Regions from separate parts of the Homo sapiens genome. Here region 2 is reported to be linked to region 1. Evidence: microRNA targets listed by miRTarBase, many of them from high-throughput screens and not tested one by one. Region 1 holds a microRNA gene; the other region holds the end of a gene's coding sequence.
Evidence for each region. Region 1 holds the annotated microRNA hsa-miR-4762-5p (CCAAAUCUUGAUCAGAAGCCU, at 986-1,006, opposite strand). A microRNA usually pairs through its seed, bases 2 to 8, with sites in the 3' UTR of a target mRNA and lowers its output. Matches are read on the target gene's strand: a 7mer-m8 pairs with bases 2 to 8, a 7mer-A1 pairs with bases 2 to 7 and ends in A, and an 8mer does both.

Region 1 (3,156 bases):
CCTAGTCTTCCATAAAGGTTGGTGAGAAATGAAAATTAAGTAAACACAGTATTACATAAGTGCTTAGAAAAGTTTAACTGTGAAAACAATGAACAGATTTAAAAATATTCATTTGTTCATCCCTAAAAGTTTACAGAGCACTCACTGTGGGCCCGGAACTGTGCCAGGGGCCCTGGAGAGAATGAGGAGCAAACAGACATGGAGCTTACATGCTAGGCTTGTAGTGTTTTAGATGGTAATACAGTCTCTGCTCAAAATCACCAATATAAAAACATTAAAGTCCCAGCTACTTGGGAGGCTGAGGCTGGGGAATCGCCTGAACCTGGGAGGTGGAGGTTGCAGTGAGCCGAAATCACGCCACTGCATTCCAACCTGGCGACAGAGCAAGACTCCGTCTCAAAAAAATAAAATAAAATAAAATACTGAGGTCACCCTTGAAAACATAAGCCAACAATGAAAATTCAACTTCTTTCCCAAAAGGAAAACAACAATAATGAAACAGAATAAGCTACCTGAAAGAAAGCTTCCTCTTTCATTACTCTTTATCAAATTACTGTCTCTCACATATGTCCTTTTATTTCCAGGCTTATCACCACCCTCCAACCAGGCCTCCACTGCTGTAGCAACCTTTTAACTGGCTCAGGAATCCACTCCGCACACTGGGGCTCTTATCAGTGAGGATGGGCTGGTTCGTGCTGCAGTAACAAACAATCCACAAAAATCTAAGAGGCTTAAAATGAAAGTTTCTTTCTTTCTCATGCCACTTAACAGCTGTGTGGCCTTGGGTACACTACTGAACCATTCTGGCCCTCAGTCTCCTCATCTGCAACATGGGAGAGGTATCATCATTAAATGAGGTAAGAGACGAATACTCAGAACTGTGCCTAGGACACAGGACACACTCAATAAGCAACTACTATTGCTGTAATCGTTGTTATTCTTGACACCACAAATCTTGATCAGAAGCCTTCCTAGCTTCTGATCAAGGCTTCTGATCAAGATTTGGGGTATCAGAAATAATGGGATATGACTACACCCTATCATCTAGCCATCTGTCTCCCACAGTAGATCATGAGCTACTTGAGAACAAGGACTGCCTCTGACTCCACTGTTGAACTGCAGAGGTTCACAGAAAGTGGCACATGGTAAGCACTCAGAAAGTGCTTGCTGCACTAAAGGGAACGATGTTGAATAATAATCACTGGTACGTGAATAAACCCCACATGTGCTGGACATACACAGAGTCCCATATTAATGAGGGCACACTCTCAGATGCATCTGGCCCGCAGGAAACCTGACTAAAAGCACATGATGAAGATAGGGAATGTCATCTGTAGGTGGGAAAGATGGCTTTACAGGCCCAGAACCAAGCCACAGTTGAGCTAGGCCACCAGTACATGGGCTACTGCTCCCAGGGAAGTCTAAGCAAACGAAGGAGGATGTTCCACGTTGTGGAATTAGCACAAATCTATCTCCACGTGGGGAAAGAATGTAATTCAAGATTCCCCCTGTTCCTCCTTCCTTTCTTAGGGCCATCATTCCCCTGCCCCATGCTCTCCTGGCACACTGGCACACAACAGCCAGCATGGAAAAAACTTTCTGAGGGGATAGAGGTGCTCTCTGTACCTTGACTGGGGTGATAATTACACAGGTGCAGACATCTGTCAAAACTTATCAGCCATTCATTAAAAATCTGTGTTTAGCTGTATGTAAATTAGAAAGAGAGAGAAGCAAGCGATGGACAGTGCTGACTGTTATATGGTCCCTTAGCTCATGCCGGCAGCTGAGGTGTGACCCCATCCCACCCCATCCCCTACAAAACTAGAGCTTTATGAAGGGCAGGGTGGCTGGGAGGGAGGAGCTGATGCAGCTTGGTAAACTGGCCTCTGGAGGACATTATGAAACCTTGCTCATCCTCGTGCAGCCTCAGCTCCCTCAGGAGGCCTTTCCTCCTGCTTCATGGCACAAGAAGAGTACGGAACCCTCACCCTGATCAGACTGCTCTAGAATCTTTTTTGTTTGTTTGTTTGACACGGAGTCTTGCTCTGCCCAGGCTGGAGTGCAGTGATGCTATCTCGGCTCACTGCAACCTCTGCCTCCCGAGTTCAGGTGATTCTCCCGCCTCAGCCTCCCGAGTAGCTGGGATTACAGGCATGCGCCACCACGCCCGGCTACTTTTTGTATTTTTAGTAGAGACAGGGTTTCACCATGTTAGCCAGGCTGGTCTTGAACTCCTGACCTCAGGTGATCCGCCCACCTCAGCCTCCCAAAGTGTTGGGATTACAGGTGTGAACCACCATGCCCGGACTCTAGAATCTTTTACTATTTATCATTGTCCCTCTAAGCTTCAAGTTACTTGAGGGTGAGGACCTTTTCTTCCCCTTCCTTCTCTCCAGCACCTCGCATAATGCTTGGCACACAGTGTGCTCTTAATCAATATTTGTTTCTCTGGCAGTAAGTTTCTAAAGTTATCTTTAAAGATATGAGATATACTGCCTTTAAATAAGAATGGTACTTCTAAGTAAGAATAATGTCTAAATTACATTAAATCTTGTTAACTCTAAAGATTTAAATCTCTTCTTTTTTGGAGAGGTATGACTCCTACTGTCATGATTTATGACTCCATAAAAGCCATGTATTTACTGGGCAGAATAAACGGTAAGCTTGGTATGCATAACACAGCACTAGAATTCTTGCTATAAAGATTACTGATGCCTCAGGCTGTTATAAACGAGATGTCACATGAAGCTATGCATCAAGAGCTTGCCCTGAAGACAAAAACATCGCATACTGCTCTATCAAGTCCACGTTCAGTTACAGCTCCTGGCGCTCCGCAGTGGCTATGTGTATGCACATGTGCGTGTGCAAACACATGGCCAGTGTGTTTAAATGAACACCTGGCAACCCAAAAACAACATCTTAAAGATAGCTGTCAGAGCATGAAACATTGCACTAACCAGGAACTTCCATGGTTGTGGATTAGCAGAATAACACATCAAAGCAACCTTGAATTACGTGTGATATGCCTTAGGAAACTTCAGTTTCTGATGACCAATAATTTGAATCTAATCTTTTGAACCAAAAAGAATTATGTATTTTGTTCCAAGCACAAAGTCAGTGGCTATAGCTCAAGCCATGAATATGTAATTTCCTAAA
Region 2 (3,000 bases), not on the chromosome of region 1:
ACACAGCCAGCTAGTGGCAACCCAGGACCTGAACTCGGGTCTTCTATATCTGCTATTGTACTGTTACATGTAGGTCTTTGTATATGGGAAAACTTTGCCTCAACCCTCTTAGATTAAAAAGTGCATGGCAGCTGCACACTGGCAAATTCAAGTTGGGGAAGTGCCGTGCAGATGAGAAGGTTGGGTGGCAGAGTGAAATAAAATGTCTTCCTTGATACTGTATCTCAGCACTTACCCAACATTAAACTTTTGTTCTATCTGCAGGGATTGCAAATTTTTATCCTGTACACTGTTAGAACAAAAGTCTTCCAGAGTGAAGCTTCCAAAGTGTTGATGTTGCTATCGTCTATTGGGAGAAGGAAGTCATTGCCTTCAGTGACGCGGCCGAGGCTGCGTGTAAAGATGTATAATTTCCTCAGGTCATTGCCAACCTTACATGAACGCTTTAGGCTACTGGAAACCTCTCCGAGTACTGAGGAAATCACACTCTCTGAAAGTGACAATGCAAAGGAAAGCATCTAGACAGTAAAACTTACCTGTTGTGGTCTTTTTAATCACCTCGTTTGAGTTTTATCTGTTTCTCTCCTTTATTTCCCAGTCCTCTCAGAAAGTCTTCCTCAATGTATTTTGCTCAGGATTAAGAATTAGATAAAACCTGTTGTTTATTATTATTCGGCATAATGGACTTGGTAGTTTTTCTATTTTTCAATAGATTTGTACTTGAATAAGGTGAAGAATTTCACACAACATACAAGAGTACCATTGTTCCTTATATCGTTAAATCTTTGTGACACACTTTGACAAAAATGTAGAACCTATAACAAATTCTTTTACAAGTTACTATAAAGGACACAAAGAGAAAACTTTACCTTCCAGAACAAAATGACTCCTGATGAACAGTGTGTGGGGATTTGCTTGTATGTATTAAACTTTTGACCTCTGAATATTTTACAGTCGTATGTGCTTGTACTTTTATTTCCAATGAAGAATTTGGCACCAATTCAAACTTTGAAAAGCGATATTTTTTTCTGTTTAAAAAAAAGTGTGTTTTGTGACCAGGAGAATTGGCTCTGTAAGAAATGGGCAGCGAGACAGGTTAGTTTGTTACTAAATGGATATTTCCTTCCAGTTCTTAATATATTTGCTCTTTCACTGAAGTGGCACTGAGACCCCCAAAATGAGAAGTTAGTCATAATCATCATTTATGGCTTTTAAAAGATTTAACTGCTCATGGAAAGTCAAACACTTGAATTATGAATGGCTTCCTCATTAAAAAAAATGGCCTCTATTTGGGTGGTGAGCATTCCCACTGGACTTAGGATATATAGTCTTTAAATTGCTGTTTTCTGTTTTGCCATAAACAAGACAGCTGCTGTCAGTGCACGGAATTCCGAGATTAACAAATGTCATGTGGGCTTGGCACTCCCTAAAGAATGTGTGTTTTCTAGAGAAATAGTTGCAGAAGACTTTTGGGTTCCTGGGCAAGCCAACAAGAGCCTATATTTATAGGAGAACAGAAAAAAGTAAAGGGAAGAGAATAAAGAATAAAAGCAGACCTCAAAAGCCAGTGTTCTTGGTGGCATCATAGGGCTGCACCTAAATAGTAGCTGGGCACAGGGAAAATGATAAGATGTGGTTGACTCAAAATTTGTATTCAGATGAAAATTAAGCTTAAGTTAGGGCCACTTTAAATGTTAAAAAAAAAAAATCACCAAAGAGCCATATTTAGCCTGAGGGTAAGTGTATGTGTTTCCCTTTGTAATTACAGTTGTTTTCTTTGCACGTTTTTCAGCACTTTTGGGGCATAGTAACTAAAATTCCATAAAATGTTGCTGAAATATCTGTACTATAAATGTGCAAGCTCCACATGCAATTGTGGTGACTAATTCAGGTGAACATGGATATTCTTCTGTCTACCCTGAAATGAATCCTACCACTAGGAAATAATTCCTTTGATTTAAATCATTGTCTCATGCACCGGTCAGCAATTTTCAGTTTAATGATAGAAACCCAACTCAAATTAGGTTAAAGGTGAAGGTAATTTAATGGATCAGTTAATGTAAAGTCCAAGGACCGAGTTGGTAGGATTACTATGTGTTTTAGTTTGCCTGGGCAAGTCCCAATTTGTGCCTGTTTTTCTGAGTTAAGCATTACTAGCAGCCCCTTTTACCTTCAAGTGTCATGGTTTGAGTTATGAAATATATGATAATGCTAACTTTAGGTCTATTTAGAACAAGTGATATGGGTGGGGGCAGGGAAGTGCTGAGTAGAGAAGGGCAGGGTCCCTGGTGAGGGCTCCACCCTGGGGTCTGCTCCCATGGACCTAAGTGAGAACAGGCACTCCTGTTTTCATGCCCAAATGTTGCATTTTCCAAGGCCACTCTGGCCCACCACGACCCCCATCCTGTGTCCGTATAAACCCGAGACCTTAGCGACACACACATAAGGGGCTGAACATCGAGAAGAGCAGGGGAAAAGAGCGGTGGAGAATGGTGGGGTGGTGTGGCAGAGAAGGAGGGAAGAGGCTTCTGAATGTTGGCCAAGGACAGCCAGACTCCAGGGGAAGATCACCTTCCCACTCCATTCCCCTTTTCCAGCTCCCCATCCACCTCACCGAGAGCCACCTCCACCACTCAGTAAAACCTTGCACTCATCCTTCAAGCCCACGTGTGATTTGATTTTGCCGGTACACTGGGTAAGAACTCAGGATACAGAAAGCTATCACACTGGCCCTCTGCCCTGGCGATAAGGCAGAGGGCTTATTGAACTGATTAACACAAGCTGTCTGCAGATGGCAAAGCTGAAAGCGCACACTGTAACACACAACCACCTGGGCTCTGGGAGTGGCAGACACCCACCCATAGACGGTGCTGTGGGGTTGGGGCCCAAAGGCTTTCCCCACGACCTCTTCACCTGCCTGTCTGCATGTTCCGCCTAGGAGGCAGGGAGCCCAGCGAGCCACACCCCTGTCACATGCCCTGTGACGGGGATCAGGGAACT

Region 2: the mRNA of ADGRG7 is a reported target of hsa-miR-4762-5p. Seed matches in the 3' UTR shown: 7mer-m8 at 711-717.

The regions. Positions count from the first base shown.
Region 1 is chr22:45,758,382-45,761,537 of GRCh38, reverse strand. It overlaps MIR4762 (microRNA 4762), which reads right to left and starts at 1,014; the gene lies at 940-1,014. All of the region lies in intron 9 of ATXN10 (ataxin 10), which reads right to left. RefSeq lists an enhancer at 2,873-3,156.
Region 2 is chr3:100,694,480-100,697,479 of GRCh38, forward strand. It overlaps ADGRG7 (adhesion G protein-coupled receptor G7), which reads left to right. Exons shown (of 16, transcript NM_032787.3): 16 at 265-1,000. The coding sequence ends at 522. Among named protein-coding and RNA genes, the nearest start is that of TFG, 14 kb to the right of the region's middle.